Homo sapiens: one gene and its partners. Changing the gene in region 2 together with the main gene of any one other region gives a genetic interaction. Each region holds a gene or a part of one and is shown on either strand. Other genes may lie near its edges. The genes, in order: SPPL3, GLB1L3 and FLT3.

Evidence for each region.
Region 1: changes in GLB1L3 (region 2) and SPPL3 together harm fitness less than expected from each alone (positive genetic interaction), as found in Homo sapiens cells (one large-scale study listed by BioGRID).
Region 3: changes in GLB1L3 (region 2) and FLT3 together harm fitness less than expected from each alone (positive genetic interaction), as found in Homo sapiens cells (one study listed by BioGRID).

The regions. Positions count from the first base shown.
Region 1 is NC_000012.12:120,768,204-120,771,858, forward strand, and holds part of SPPL3 (signal peptide peptidase-like 3), read right to left. Parts: intron 857-3,655; coding exon 750-856; intron 286-749; coding exon 122-285; intron 1-121.
Region 2 is NC_000011.10:134,317,203-134,320,200, reverse strand, and holds the end of GLB1L3 (beta-galactosidase-1-like protein 3), read right to left. Parts: intron 1,571-2,998; coding exon 1,454-1,570; coding exon of another isoform or gene 1,418-1,453; exon of another isoform or gene 1,402-1,417; intron 1,325-1,401; coding exon 1,259-1,324; 3' UTR 637-1,258; downstream 1-636.
Region 3 is NC_000013.11:28,093,922-28,097,576, reverse strand, and holds part of FLT3 (receptor-type tyrosine-protein kinase FLT3 precursor), read left to right. Parts: intron 1-3,655. UniProt on the Homo sapiens protein: Tyrosine-protein kinase that acts as a cell-surface receptor for the cytokine FLT3LG and regulates differentiation, proliferation and survival of hematopoietic progenitor cells and of dendritic cells.

The DNA of each region.
Region 1 (3,655 bases), on a different chromosome or scaffold from region 2:
CAGCATGGAGATAATGGCCCCAGGTTGGGATCAGAATGCTGATGACATTAGAGACTGATCAAGGCCGGGAACAGATAGGCACAGGAAGACAGTGTGGTCCTGTCATAGCATGAGGTCTTACCTTGGGAAGACCAGTTTTCCAGGCAGAGACAGGCGAGGAACATCACGCCCAACATTGGGCCCCAGGTGGAGCTTCCGGGATAGAACGTCAAGGGGATTGTCAGCCGGCTGAGTGGCCACCTTCACCATGACGTTGCTATTGAAGATGTAGGCTGAGAAAAATACCTGCCGAGTTGGAGAGATGCCTTTAACAGAGGGAGTTGGAAGCAACCTGCTTTCAGCATCAGCCCTCCTTGCTCTTAAGAGCAGAGTCTCAGAATGCTGTGACTGCAATGCTTTCGTTGACTGTATGATTTGAGAAAATCTTTGCTCTTCCTGTGTACTTGCCAATTTCTGCACTCTCCACACCCAGAGATTACTCCCTGACGGGGTGGCCCCCACTGCAGCGAATCTTGTCAGCCTGTTACCTCTTCTATCCTAGGAGTCACACACACACACTACCTACTGTACGACTTTTCAGCAAACAAAAGGATCGGACTGCACACCCATGATACAGTTAAGGACTGGAGAGAGAGTGATCAGCAGCTGGGCAAGCCCGACTTTGGATACTTCTAGTTAATAGTTTTCAGGCATGAATGCTTCACTTCAACACAAAGAAGGGGAGGAGCTCCAAGGACATAAACGCTTACCCAAAAGACATCATAGATGAGAAGCCCTGAGAGAAGCAGGCAGGAGACCTTGAGGCTCGGCAGGCGGACAAAGGCGATCATGGCGACACAGAGGCCCATGGCCAGTGCTGGGGAGGAGACAGGGTACAGCAGACAGCAGTCAGTGTGGACTCCAGGCTCATCCTCTTTCCACAAGCTATGGCCCTTCACAGAGTTTGCAATTCCCTCAAAAATCAGGCAGCCCTAAGCTCCAGCTTCAGAAACTTACATGCAACTGGTGCAAAACACCCGCTTCTTCAGCCTGTTTGGACTTGTGGAATTTGGGGTGATTGCTTTCCTCCTCCTAGACATAGTGCTCGGCTGTTGGAGACCCAGGAAACCAGTCCAAGACCTCCAAGCTCTCTTTTCCTGCCTTCCCTCCAATGTTGTGGATGTGTTGTCCTTGCTCCCTGCTTTAAAGTGAACTCACACCCTAGATAGCACCCCCTTTCATTCACTGGAGGCATCATCCCAGCAATTCATTAACTGCGTTATAGAAAACTAGAGAATACAGTAAAGCAAAATAAAAAAATTACATTCCCACTTTTCAGAGATTACCACTGTTCAATATCTTCCTAGAATTTTGTTTTTCTTTTTGGAGATGGAGTCTCGCTGTATCACCCAGGCTGGAGTGCAGTGGCACAATCTCGACTCACTGCAACCTCTGTCTCCTGAGTTCAAATGATTCTCCTGCCTCAACCTCCCGAGTAGCTGGGATTACAGGCACCCACCACTACGCCCAGCTAATTTTTGTGTTTTTAGTAGAGATGGGGTTTCACCATGTTGGCCAGGCTGGTCTCGAATTCTTGACCTCAGGTGATCCACCTGCCTTGGCCTCCCAAAGTGTTGGGATTACAGGCATGAGCCACTGCACCCAGCCAATAATTTTTTACATACTTTTTTTTTTTAATCTAATGAGATCACACAATCTGTTCCCCCCCTCCACCAAAGCCAACAACCCCCAGTTTCCATTTGGGTGAATTTTCACCTCATTTAATCAAATTTCTCTATAGACCCCAAAACATCTTTTGCAGATGGTTTGTCTGTGCTGGTTTCCAATCTGACATAGTCCACCCCACCACTTTTATTTTTTTTGAGACAGGGTCTTGCCCTGTTGCCCAGGCTGGAGTGCAGTCATGCGATCTTGGCTCACTTCAGCCTCTGCCTCCTGGGCTCAAGCAATACTCAGCCTCCTGAGTAGCTGGGACCACCGGCATGTGCCACCACACCTGGATAATTTTTGTATTTTTTGTAGAGATGAGGTCTTGCTATGTGGCCCAGGCTGATCTCAAGCAATCCTCTCACCCTGTTCTCCCAAAGTGCTGGGATTACAGGTGTGAGCCACCATGCCCAGCCTAAAGTCCTTTTTTTAATGACTTGCTGAAACTGGAGTCATCTGGATTTTTCTGTGCTTCTCTATTGCAGTGGTTGGCTTTTCCTCTATCCCATATATTTCCCATAAATTAGATGTTATCATTTGAGTGCTCGATCACTTCCAGCAGGGCTTTCATCCCTGCTACTCCACTGACACTGCTCCTGGGGGCTTGCCAAGGATCCCCTCATTGCTAGACACAGTAATCGACCTGTCCTCCTCTTACCCGACCTTTAGGCAGCAACCCGCCCAGCTAATGGCTCCCTCCTTTTCCCTTGATTCTCAGGACAATGTGCTCTCCTGTTCCTCCCCACTCACTGGCCTTTTCAGGCTTCTCTGTAGCTCCTCCTCAATTCCCAGAACTCCACGGGCCTTTCCTCAGATCTTTTCCTCTCTCAGTGATCTCGTCCAATCTCAAGGCTCTTGACACTATCTATCTTATATGTCATCAACTCACACATTTTAATTTCCAGCCTGAATCTCTTCTTGGAGCTCCAGACTCATACATCCTGTGGCCTAAGAGACATATATACTTGGCTGTCTAGTTGGCCTCTCAAATCTAACATGTCCAAACTCAGCTCTTAACAGTGCAGTCTTCTGTCTCCAAGCATTTACTCTTTGCTTCCAATTGTGCAGACGGAAATCTGTGATGTCGTTTTTGACCCGTCTCTCTTTTACACCCTGCCTGGCTTAAGCCGCCATCCTCTCCTGGCGTGCATTGCTGCAATGACCTCCTCCCTGGCCTCTCTGCCTCCAACTTAACCCCTAACAAGTCTCTTCTTCACAGTGCAGACAGAAGCAGCTTCTTAAACCCTAAGGCAGGTTTTATGGGGCCCCTAGCTCAAAACTCTTAAACAACTTCCCATAGAGTAAAAGCCACAGTCTTCATACTGGCTGACAAGGTCCTGCTGTGACGGTGACCCTTCAGGTCACCTCCTGCTACTTCCTTTGCCAGCCACAGCAGCCTCCTCACTCTACCCCCCATGCCGCCGCTTCGGCCACGCCGCCGCTTCAGTGCTCTGCATTTACTGTGCCCTCTGCCTGAACGATCTCCTCCCAGAACCCAACTGGCTCCGCTCCTCGTCTTTCACAGTTCTTCACGCAAGTACTAGCTTCTCAATGACAGGTGGACTTTCCTGCAATTACATTTAAGATCATACTTCCTGCCCTTGTCTTATTTTTCATTTCTCAACTTCTGATATACATAATTTCTTCTTTTTTTTAAACATTCTCACTGCCCTCAACTCCAGTGAAGGTTCCCCGAGAGCATGGCTCAGTGCTCACCCTTGTAGTCTAGGCCAGGGCCTGGCAGGTGCAGGGCCTCTCCCCTCCTTCAGCTCTCTTCCTCCACTGTTCTGCAAACACAGGTTTGATGAGGACACAGAGCTGTTGAGAAACTCTTCATGGGGTCTTGTGGTGGGATGAATGTCCAACTCCCTGGCCAGGGAGGGCACTCTCCACTGTACAGCCCAAGCCCTCAACACGCATTCCTGTGGCTCTGTTTTCTAGACAGTTC
Region 2 (2,998 bases):
ATTACTTGAAAGCCCTAGGCACTATATTTAACAGGGTGATAAGATTTGCTTATAGTGCATTGGTTTGAATTTAGGCCAAGTGCTGTGTTTTGTATATAAGAAAGTGCTTGGTTCCCAATGGTGCCATTTTTTTCAAATGGCTCCACTGGCTTTTCATAGTGGTTGGAATATTCATGTGTGTGTGGCTAATCTCACTAATGCCTACCCACTATCAGTAGTAGCCTTGACTATAGCCAGATAGACAGGGAGTAAGAAGACACAGAGAACCCTGCGCTAGCTTTGTTGTCACACGTGTCTGAAGCAAATGACCAAATTTCTGTTCCTTCTCTGATTAGATGTGACATGCAGGGTCACCTTGTAGACACATAGTTGAAGGGAAATGAAAGACATTGTTCATTGCCCTCTCCTTTCCCCTACTCCTACATACACACACACACATGCACGCGCGCGCGCACACACACACACACACACACACATACACAGAGAGAGAGAGAGAGAGAGAGAGAGAGGAGGGAGACCGTGAGTTTGCCCATTAGTACATGCAATACTCTCTCTGGCATGAGGAAATCAGTATCCTTACTCTTCCCCAGGCTTCAGACCTTTCCCTTCCCTTCAATTGAGTATGGGAGGCAGAAATGAAACTTGTTTTTATTTTATTCACATCTACTCAAAGGCACGTTTAATTAAAGAATAAGAGCCTGCTAAGGATTAAGCATTTAACTAGATAAATCAGTCATTAAAGATTTTGAAGACTTTTTAAAGCCTAAAAATAGGCATCATATAGATAGACTACAAAATACATAACAATTCCTCTGCTGTTTTGTTGTTGTTGTTATTTTCACATTTTTGCTATTGTAGGCAACACTGTGTTTGATAGTCTTAACATAAATCTTATTCCTCAAAAATGACTTATAGATGAACTCCAGCAACCCAAAAAATATGTTCACGGCCGGGAGTGGTGGCTCACGCCTGTAATCCCAGTACTTTGGGAGGCTGAGGAGAGCAGATCACAAGGTCAGGAGATTGGGACCATCCTGGCTAACTTGGTGAAACCCCATCTCTACTAAAAATACAAAAAATTAGCCAGGCGTGGTGGCGTGCACCTGTAGTCCCAGCTGCTGGGGAGGCTGAGGCAGGAGAATGGCGTGAACCCGAGAGGCTGAGCTTGCAGTGAGCAGAGATTGTGCCACTGCACTCCAGCCTGGGCGACAAAGTGAGACTCCATCTCAAAAAAAAAAAAAAATGTTCAGACACAGTTTTACAGCGTGGGCTTGTCTGTAGATTTGATATCTGAGCCACTCATCATCTTCTCAAACAAGATGACCTGAGAAGAAAAGAAAGGTTGACAGTGGGAAAGGTGAAGCCTATTTAGTACAGGTTGAAAAAGACACTGCAACTCACATTTTGATCTGAAAGTTTATGAGATCTCAAGGCAGAGACTGGAGTGACATACCTCATTGTCTTCTGGATGAAGCCAAACTCCAGGAAGGTACAGTGTTTTCTGAGGCCCAATATTCCAATATCGCCCAAGGTTACGTCCATTGATGAACACAAATCCATAATTCCAGTTCTGAAAGGAATGGTGGCTTGAGATTTGGAAATTGGTTCACATTAGCAAGGTAAAACCTAAGGCACTTGGAGAGTGAGAGCAAGATTGAGATACTTTATGGCACTCAAATGAAGGTGAGTTTAGAGTGGGATATGTTATAGAACTTCTACCTTGCTGTCTAGGAATGAAAGAGAAAAGCATAAATAGAACCAACCCTTTAATGGTAAGGCTGCTATTGTTCCTGTTATGTGATATATAATGTTATATATTTTAAAAAGCAGATCTTCTACTTCCAGAAATAAATATCAGGTAATAGTGATGAACACCACTGCTGACAGTGGCTATTAATATAAAAGCTGCACATTTTTAAAAATCTGCTTGCAATATAATGAAGAATTACAGGATCAAGATCTAGAAGAAGAAAATGGAGAGACAAGGAGACATCTAGGCAGTTTTTCCACTAGAGGCACCTGCTTATTCTGGGATATAACAAAACAGTCTAGCACATAAAATTGGAGTCTCTGAAATGCTTCAAATTAAAGGGCAAAGGTTGCTGGTCTTGATTTCAAATAAAGTAGTTATATGCTACATATAAGAGAAGCATCAAAAACATAAGGCATTGGAAAAATAAAAGAAAAACAATGGATAATGATATGTAAACCCTAACCAAAAGGAAGTTGCTATAGCTCTGTTAATATTCAGAAAAATAATACTTTAAGGCAAGAAGCATTATTAGAGATAAAGAGGGACATTTCATGATGGTAAAATTCTTAATTTACCAAAAATGTATATACAACATACATAAGAAAGATAAAAGCAGAGATTCAAAACATATCAGCGAAATTGACAGAAGAGAAATAAATAAATTTACAACCATAGCGGGAAATTTTTATACAACCTTTCAATAGTCAATAGGCAAAGCAAATAACAATCAATAAAGACATAAAACATTTAAAAGAAGATGATTAACAAAATTGAACTAATTGACATAATAGAACATTGATCTAACATCTACAGTATACACATATTCTTTCAAGTATACCTCAGAATATTTACAAGCTTGATCCTGTATTAAACTAGTCTTCACATAAACTTCTCAGACTATAATGCATTTAAGAAAGAAACTGATAAAAAAGATAACCCTAAAATATCCAAATTCTTGGAAATTAAGAAAAGCACTTCTAAATAAACCATAAATCTAACAAGTAATGACAAAGGAAGTTGGAAAATATTTGAATTCTTTGATGATGATGATAAAATTGATAGAAACTTGTAGGGTATAAGACTATCAGCAGATTTTTCAGCAGAAACCTTGCAGGCTAGCGTGGAATGGACCGATATATTTAAAATGCTAAAAGAAAAATCAACTGGCAACCAAGAATACTACATCCAGCAAAACTGTCTTTCAAAAATGAATAAGAGATAAAGACTTCCAGACAAAAACTGAGG
Region 3 (3,655 bases), on a different chromosome or scaffold from region 2:
GTCTATCTATAGTAAATTATCCTCTTAGGTTTAATTGTGAACTTCTTGCCTTACATTAAAAATGGATTAACTTTTTATAACTAAGAAGGCACTTTCAGTAACTCTTAGCTATTGGTAAATATTTGTTATTGGATTCTCCTGTTGTTTAAACTGAAAAACAATCAGGCAATGAGATATTAAATGGGAAGGAGGAAGACTTACTTATATTCCAAGGGAAGACTTCAGATAAGAAAAATGAAGAGAAAACATGCATTAGGAAGAAAAAATCTGTTTTTATTTAACAAACTTTAATTGAATACCCATTTTTTTCCTTCCTTCCTTCTTTCCTTCCTTCCTTTCTTTCTTTCTTTTTCTTTCTTTCTTTCGACAGTCTCCCTTTGTCATTGAGGCTGGAGTGCAGTGGTGTGATCACAGCTCACTGCAGCTTCAACCTCCTGGGCTCAAGCAAGCCTCCTACCTCAGCCTCCTGAGTACCTGGGACCACAGGCACGTGCCACCACACCTCATTAATTTTTTGAAAAATTTTTTGGTAGAGATGAGATCTCACTGTATTGCTCAGGCTAATCTTGAACTCCTGGGCTCAAGTGATCCTCCCAAAGTGCTAGGATTACAGGTGTGAGCTACCGTGCCTGACAGAATACCTATTTCTTGCTAGGCACAAGCAGTACAAAGATTAAAGAGATGGAGGTAGGGGAACTTGTGTATAAATAACCAATTTTATTTTTTTAAGAAATGTGTGGTCATTGCCTTTCCCCAGGAAAAGTATTTCAGTATGCTTTCTTTTATTAAACCTTCCAACACAGTTATTATGATTACTAAATATACATTAAAAATTGCATGAGTCTGGCTGGGTGCGATGGCTCATGCCTGTAATCCCAGCACTTTGGGAGGCTGAGGCAGGCAGATCACTTGAGGAGTTTGAGACCAGCCTGGCCAACATGGTGAAACCCTGTTTCTACTAAAAATACAAAAGTTAGCCAGGCGTGGTGGCAGACGCTTGTAATCCCAGCTACTTGGGAGGCTGAAGCAGGAGAATCACTTGAGCCTGGGAGGCAGAGGTTGCAGTGAGCCAAGATTGCGCCATTGCACTATACCCTTGGTGACAGAGTGCGACTCCATCTCAAAAAAAAAAAAATTGCATGCGTCAATGAAGGAAGCTTTAGCCTGGTCAGAAAAGGGATCCCAGTTTTTTGCCCCCTAAAACTACTTTTTAAATTTTTTTTGAGACAAGACCTGGCCCTATCACCCAGGCTGGAGTGCAGTGGTACAGTCTCGGCTCACTGCAACCTCTGCCTTACGGACTCAAGCAAGCCTCCTACCTCAACCTCCTGAGTTGTGGGACTACAGGCATGCACCATGACACCCGACTAATTTTTGTATTTTTTGTAGAGATGGGGTTTCACTGTATTGTCTAGGCTGGTCTTGAACTCCTGAGCTCAAGCAATCCTCCTGCCTCAGCCTCCCAAAGTGCTGGGATTACACATGTGAGCCAGTGCGCCCAGCCTAAAACTACTTAAAAATGGAGATATAGTACTGTATTTAATGCTTATGGGAAAGAAAATGCTCTTCCATTTAAAGTAAAAGGAACAAACTGTTCCAAAGCTAAATATGGTCATCTTTTAGGTCTTGGGAAGAAGCACTTTTCCAAATCATTCTTTAAGCAAAGGTATTGACCACATTTTACTCTGGGAGGGTATTCCTGCTCATTTGAGAAGCCCACAAAATGCCTCGGCTTCAACAACATATCCACGGTTCTTTGTGTTCCTCTCATCTCATCCTTGCATGACACTCGGCAAGCAGGGTGACAGTAACTAACCCCTATCATTCAAGTTCAAGATTACAGTCTTGCTGCCTCCCCACATACCTACCAGACATTGCCTTAATCTTTGGGCAAAGATTTTGATTTGACAAAAAGCAAATAATCTCAAGAGTATTGTATTTTATCATTTTTCTTAACTTTGAAAGGGATCTTGTAGATAACAGGAGTAAGAATTTGGAGAGGGGGCCGGGCAAGGTGGCTCATGCCTGTAATCCCAGCACTTTGGGAGGCCAAGGTGGGCAGATCACGAGGTCAAGAGATCAAGACCATCCTGGCCAACGTGATAAAACCCTGTCTCTACTAAAAATACAAAAATTAGCTGGGTGTGGTGGCGCACGCCTGTAGTTCCAGCTACTCAGGAGGCTGAGGCAGGAGAATCACTTGAACCTGGGAGGTGGAGGTTGCAGTGAGCCGAGATCATGCCACTGCATTCCAGCCTGGAGACAGAGCGAGACTCCTTCTCAAAAAAAAAAGAGAGGGGAAACTGAAGGGCTGGAAATTGGCTTAGCTTGGTCTTGACACTGTGCTGTATCCTTTATTCCCTCTGAAATAGCAAATTCTTGTGAACTTCACAGTAGGTGGTTTGTCTGAGTAGAGCTTTTTGGTTTTTTGTTTTTTCTTATATACCCAGACTGCTCACCTGCAAGCTTTTTGGTTTTTATCAGGAGACTTTGTGATCTTAAGATGTTTTTCTATGACTTCCAGAAAAGCTGTATCCACTTCTCAGGTAGTCACAGTTATAGGGTCGAAGATTTTTCTGTCTTTGGGGAATCTGCGAGTTTTATACCTAAGTGATTTAGTTATTCTTGGTTGATACTTTCTATGGCTGCATTATCAGTGGTTTTGAAGTAATGAAAGCTTTTGTAGAAGTCACTACTGGTCACTAATTTGACTCACGCAATTCTGTTCTATGAGTACCAACACATGTGAAGGAAATTTTAAAATAATATAAAAGTAGGCAGAGTGCAGTGGTTCACACCTGTATCCCCAGCACTTTGGGAGGCCTAGGTGGGAGGATCACTGGAGCCCAGGAGTTCAAGACCAGCCTGGGCAATACAGCGAGACCCAGTCTCTACAAAAAAATTTAAAAATTAACTGAGCGTAGAGGCACATGCCTGTAGCCTCAGCTACTCAGGAGGCTGAGATAAGAGGATAGCTTGAGCCCAGGAATTTGAGGCTGCAGTGAGCTACGACCATGCCACTGTACTCTAACGTGGGTGACAGAGCAAGATGCTATCTCTAAAAAAAGAAAAAAGAAAGGAAAAAAATATATAAAGTGCACACAGTGTTCTTTTGTGGCCACAGAAATTGCATAAGATCCTAAAAGAGGAACCATTTTTTTTTAGGTTAAACAGTAAAAAAATATACATTTTTTTACTGCTGTCATTATAAGGTCAATTGGTAGCCAAGAATCTTCCATACAATTATTTACAGTCTATGCTAAAGCAGGCTTTAGTGTATAAGACAGTGTATAAGATAGTCACTGAATTCGGTCTTGGAATATTTTGTTATTTGAGTTATGCTTTTCCTAATGTTTGATATTATGTTCTTGGAGGTAATGCCCATAGATATATTAGGACTAAAAACACATTTAAGAAACGTGCTGTTTTCTGTGGCAGAGAATGTCTCTGCACTTAAGTTCCTCATTTGTAAAAAGGAGATAAGCAGTATCTTACTCCTTCATCAGATAATACTTGTAAAGCACAGCTGCACTCCTTGTTAGGCACGTGTTTTGCAGAAAGAAAAATATATGAAGTCTGAAGACATTAGGATTTGGAGTCACAAGATTTGCCTGCCTCTCTCCTTCCCTCCCTTCTTTTTTAATTCCCTCCCTCC